Linked DNA regions of Homo sapiens: region 1 is linked to region 2. The links come from fine-mapping of genetic effects on plasma protein levels. Region 2 holds a variant in brackets. A gene starts in the other region. All regions are shown on their reverse strands.

What was found. A credible set is the group of variants that fine-mapping cannot tell apart. PIP is the posterior inclusion probability: the model's chance that the variant is causal. The UK Biobank Pharma Proteomics Project read protein levels with antibody pairs (Olink). The fine-mapping took linkage between variants from a reference panel, not from the people measured, so its PIPs are less certain.
Region 1: SRP14 starts here. The variant in region 2 is the best candidate, but not a certain one, in a credible set for the plasma level of the SRP14 protein (UK Biobank, PIP 0.67).

The regions. Positions count from the first base shown.
Region 1 is chr15:40,037,997-40,040,852 of GRCh38, reverse strand. SRP14 (signal recognition particle 14) reads left to right here and starts at 1,672. Exons shown (of 5, transcript NM_003134.6): 1 at 1,672-1,760; 2 at 1,905-1,977; 3 at 2,459-2,571. The coding sequence starts at 1,737. It overlaps SRP14-DT (SRP14 divergent transcript), which reads right to left and starts at 1,542. Exons shown (of 3, transcript NR_040060.1): 1 at 1,405-1,542. It overlaps LOC124903471 (a long non-coding RNA gene), which reads right to left. Exons shown (of 2, transcript XR_007064596.1): 2 at 2,444-2,856. RefSeq lists a silencer at 1,469-1,678 and enhancers at 764-1,708, 1,759-1,938, 1,959-2,008, 1,709-2,654.
Region 2 is chr17:35,556,690-35,559,542 of GRCh38, reverse strand. It overlaps SLFN14 (schlafen family member 14), which reads left to right. Exons shown (of 6, transcript NM_001129820.2): 3 at 1,437-2,540. The coding sequence starts at 1,481. Among named protein-coding and RNA genes, the nearest start is that of SLFN14, 2.7 kb to the left of the region's middle. The variant TTA/A (reference allele first, on the strand shown) is at 488.

The sequences.
Region 1 (2,856 bases), not on the chromosome of region 2:
GTGGGCAACGGGCGCTGGCCATTTGGAAGAAAATGTGAAATCAGAGAGTGAACATATTTAAGCCATTAAGTTTGAATCTCCTAACTGGGCTCCTCATTTCCTGCCCTGTCTCTCTACAGTGCATTCTCCACAACACAGACAGGGGGATCTTTAAAAAATATAAATCAGATTTTCAGTGTTCTGTTGAAAACTTCCTTAACGAGTCTTCTCTTTGTATCTAGAACAAAATCCAGGCTTACTATGGTCACGGGCCCTACATAATCTGGTCCCCAGCTACCTCTCCATACTCCTTTACTCCTTGCTCCACAAGCCCTCCTCACCCCCACCCGCACCTGCCAGTCTTACAGACACAGGGCAACTTGTTTCCCCTTTGAAGGTTTTGCTCTAGCCGTTCCCTGTGTCTGAAACACTGTGTCCCTAGATCTTTGGATGGCTGGTCCTTTCAGCTTTCAACTCAAAGTTCTCCTTTTCGACGAGAACTCCCCTGACCCCAACCCAGGCAGTCCCCTTCCCACTCTCATTATACAGCCCTGCTTAGGCTGTCTCACGGAATTCATTATCTGAAGCTGTACTACTTACTTGTTTGCTTCATTGTTTATTTCCTCCCTGCCCCTTTAACCCAACTTCCAGGAAACCAGGAACTTAGCTTTTCTTATCCTGCTGCATCCCCAACCTCTACAACCGTGCCTGGCACAGACTGAGAGGCACTCAGCGAAAACCTCTTGTGTGGTGGAATGCTTGACTTTATAGAGGGCCCAGGGTTCAAGTTGGCTAGTGGCAGAGAGGGCTTACAACCTAGTTCTCCTGACTAATCAGAGGTAGAACTAAAGACTGGGCTCCAGCCCCTCATTTTTTTTTTTTTTTTTTTTTTTTTTGAGACGGAGTCTCGCTCTGTCTTCCAGGCTGGAGTGCAGTGGCGCGATCTCAGCTCACTGCAAGCTCTGCCTCCTGGGTTCACGCCATTCTCCTGCCTCAGCCTCCCGAGTAGCTAGGATTACAGGTGCCCGCCACCACGCCCGGCTAACTTTTTTGTATTTTTAGTAGAGACAGCGTTTCACCGTGTTAGCCAGGATGGTCTCAATCTCCTGACCTCGTGATCCACCCGCCTCGGCCTCCCAAAGTGCCGGGATTACAGGCGTGAGCCACCACGCCCGGCCCAGCCCTTCTGGCTAGAGCTGCAGGTCAGCGTTTAGGGAGAGTTTAAAGGATCTCTACAGGAACTTATAATGACAATAATGAAAAGAACAATAGCTGATACCTACTGAACACGCTCTATGTGCCAGGCACTGTTCTACGTATTTAATCTGAGTTTCATTTACGCTTCACGACCACACTGCGCGGTAGATACTATCATTACCCTTACTTTATGGATAAGGAAACTGAGTCACTGAGTTGTTAGGTTACCTGCCCAGCATACAGCTGAATATAAATCGTACGCTGCTATCAAAACTTTCTTTTGCTCTCACTCCGTCACACTGGCTGGGGTGAGACGATTTCTCGCATGTGACGACCCAGGACAGCCCCAGCGCCTCCGGGTCACAGGCCCCCGGACGTCCCAGGGCGCGGGCGCTAGGCGGGCGGGGAGGGGGGAGGGCGCAGGCCGGGATTGGTGGAAGAGAAGAGATTGGTGGAAGACAATGGAAGTCTAGTAGCGGAAGTCCCGCCCAGCCTAGGCCGAACTTCCGGCTCTCACTGCTAGGGGCTTAAGCGGAGGGAGTCGAGCCAGCGTCGCCGCGATGGTGTTGTTGGAGAGCGAGCAGGTATGGCTAGGCCTGGCCGGCCGAGGGAAGGGGGCGGCTCAGGCGTTACTCGAGACCTGTGCCTCCTGCAGGAGGACCAGGGCCTTGACGCGGCAGGACGAGGATTTGGGGCTGGCTAACGGGGCTGGGCCTGTTGTTTTCCAGTTCCTGACGGAGCTGACCAGACTTTTCCAGAAGTGCCGGACGTCGGGCAGCGTCTATATCACCTTGAAGAAGTGTAAGCAGCGGGAGGGGAGCCGGGCGATGCTCCCTGGGTTCCCGGTGTCTGGGAGCCACCGGAGTCTGTCTGCCGCGGACCGCCGCCTTCCTCTACCTTTCCCCACCCTGTACTGAGCACATTCGGGGCTTCGGGCCCGGAAAATAGTAGGGATTGTAGCTGGCTCAGTCCCCAGCACTGAGCCGCCTAGGTTGCTTCTGGTAACAATGGGCCCCAAGCAGCCCAGGGCTCTTTGTCAGGGATCCCAGACGCCGCCACTTTGAGTGGAATTTAACGTGCTTCGATATTACATGTTTCCGTCGTGGAAATAATAGTTTCTCCAGGGTTTCGCCAGACCGTGATAGCAGATGAGGTGTTTAACAAAACTAGAGCAGCGGGGCTGGGTTAGGTCATCACTTACCCCACTCCTCTGTTTTAACTGTTTGTCTGCCGCTCAGCCACGTACGCGGCCGTGTTCACCAGGATGCATTTTTTCCTTCAGATGACGGTCGAACCAAACCCATTCCAAAGAAGGGTACTGTGGAGGGCTTTGAGCCCGCAGACAACAAGTGTCTGTTAAGAGCTACCGATGGGAAGAAGAAGATCAGCACTGTGGTGAGCTTAATTTCTAAGGCTGTCTTTTGAAATGTAAAGACTTGAACTTAACAGAGGATGGGGCGTTTCTGAACCAGGCTTTTATTTGTTTTTCCCTTTTGCCCTGTGTGGCTATTTTTGAGACCAGGACCTTCCTATACTTTAGTAGTGGAAACCTCAAGAATAAAATAAGAAGGTAGAGGTCAGACAGTCGTTAGTTCTGCTAAAGCTCTTGTGGAAATGAAAGTAGCATATTGGTCCTTATTCGTAGTACTGTAAGGAGCAGCTGGCATAAATATTTGATTC
Region 2 (2,853 bases):
TTTTCTGGTCTAGGAAGCAAAAGAAGGGTGACAATGGTTTAGTTACCATGCCCCAAAAGCTCATGTTCTTTTCCAAGTCTTAGGGGTTTCCACAGCACAGGGCAGAACTATTAGAAGGGAAGGAAAATGCTGCTGTCACATCACACTGTATATGAGGCAATGTACTTTTGAGATTTAGAACATGTGAAGAGTTGAAAAGGTTTCTGCATTTGGTATCAACTGACATTCTTTCAGGAGTAAAATAAAGCTTTTCAAAGTGTATGAAATAATACATAAAAATATAGAATTTTATTTATTTACTTTTATTTTTATTTTTTTAGACAGGTTCCCACTCTGCTGCCCAGGCTGGAGTGCAGTGGTGCGATCATGGTTCACTGCAGCCTCAAACTCCTGGGCTCAAGAGATCCTCCCACCTCAGCCTCCTAGGTAGCTGGGACTGCAGGTGCGCACCACCATACCTGCCTAATGTTTAACATTTTTTTTTTTT[TTA/A]TCTTTTGTCGAGATGGGGTCTTGCTATGTTGTCCACGCTGGTCTCAACTCCTGATCGAAAGCAATCCTCTCACATCCACCTCCCAAAGTGCTGAGATTACACATGTGAGCTACCACACCCAGCCTATGTTTGTGTTTATAGCAAGATCTTCTACAGTACATATACTGTAAAATTATACTTCCTTAGTTCTCTAGTGCCTTCCTTTCTTCCCCTTTTGAATTATAAATAAGAGCATCTTCTCACTTCAACTTCTATTTCTGCATATTCTCCAATACCTTCCTGGGCTCCTGTGCCAACCCATGCCCTTTATATCTGGGCTCAGTGTTGGCGTTTCCTGATTTGAAATGCAAAATGGCTGAAAATGTTAGCAATTTAATTTTTCCATTATGACAAATATTAGGCATTCACCTTTATCCATGCCTACTTATTCTGGCAAGGCTAAGGATATTTGGCAAAGTGATTAGAAAACAGCAGTATCAAAGATAATTTCCAGTTGGGTGCGGTGGCTCACATCTGTAATCCCAGCACTTTGGGAGGGAGGCCCAGGCAGGAGGATTGCAACGTAGCAAGACTCCATCTCTTAAAAAAAAAAAATAGCAAGAACAAAAAAGAAAAAAAAAATTAGCCAGGCTTGGTGGCACGTGTCTGTAGTCTCATCTACTAGGGAGACTGAAGTTGGAGAATCACTTGAACTGGGAGGTTGAGGTTGCAGAGAACTATTATTGTGCCACTGCACTCCAACCTGCATAACAGAGCAAGATTCTATCTCAAAAACAAACAAACAAAACTAAAAAACCCAAAACAAACAACAACAACAAATATACATATAGAGAGAGATGACTTCCAACATTAAAATATATCTCCAGTAATTGATAGTTTTGAAGAAAATATTGTAATCTTTGGAATTCTTATTAATATAGAAACAATATTTCTGTCCTGATTATAGGAACTCCTTTCTTTTATTGTTTGGAGCACAGAGGGGCTGCTGAAATGGAGAGTCTCAAGACTGATACTGAAATGCCGTATCCTGAGGTAATAGTAGATGTGGGCAGAGTGATTTTTGGAGAAGAAAACAGGAAGAAGATGACCAACAGCTGTTTGAAAAGATCTGAGAATTCTAGAATTATCCGGGCTATATGTGCACTGTTAAATTCTGGAGGTGGTGTGATCAAAGCAGAGATTGATGATAAAACCTATAGTTACCAATGCCATGGGCTGGGACAGGATTTGGAAACTTCTTTTCAAAAGCTCCTTCCTTCAGGTTCACAGAAATACCTTGACTACATGCAGCAGGGGCACAATCTCCTGATTTTTGTGAAGTCATGGAGCCCAGATGTTTTCAGCCTTCCACTAAGGATTTGCAGCTTGCGCTCCAATTTGTATCGGAGAGATGTGACTTCTGCTATCAACTTGAGTGCTAGCAGTGCCCTGGAGCTTCTCAGAGAGAAGGGGTTTAGAGCCCAAAGAGGAAGACCAAGGGTGAAGAAGTTGCATCCTCAGCAGGTTCTCAATAGATGCATTCAGGAAGAGGAAGATATGAGGATATTGGCCTCAGAATTTTTTAAAAAGGACAAACTCATGTATAAGGAGAAACTCAACTTTACTGAGTCAACACATGTTGAATTTAAAAGGTTCACCACCAAAAAAGTCATACCTCGGATTAAGGAAATGCTGCCTCATTATGTTTCTGCATTTGCCAACACTCAAGGGGGATATGTCCTCATTGGGGTGGATGATAAGAGCAAAGAAGTGGTTGGATGTAAGTGGGAAAAAGTGAATCCTGACTTACTAAAAAAAGAAATCGAAAACTGCATAGAAAAATTGCCTACATTCCACTTCTGCTGTGAGAAGCCAAAGGTAAATTTCACTACAAAAATCCTGAATGTGTACCAAAAAGATGTCCTGGATGGTTATGTCTGTGTGATTCAAGTGGAGCCCTTCTGTTGCGTGGTGTTTGCAGAGGCCCCAGATTCCTGGATCATGAAAGACAATTCTGTCACACGGCTGACAGCTGAGCAGTGGGTGGTCATGATGCTGGATACTCAGTCAGGTAAAGGGAAGTGAAGTCATTGTCCCCATCAGCAGGGAGGAACCCCTTTCTCTGCCTTTTGTGGGTATTTGATCACATATGTTAGTTAAAAAATAGAAATTTATTTTTCTTATAAGTGTTCTCCCATTACAGTGTTCCTTATCTAACATTTTTAGTTCCAAAGACTCAGAATATAAACTGAGGTCAAGAAATGTTTGGATTCTATGGCCTAAACAACTTTTTTTTCTTTAGACTCTGTCACCCAGGCTGGAGTGCAGTGGTGTGACCTCGGCTCACTGCAAACTCCACCTCCCAGGTGCAAGTGATTCTCGTG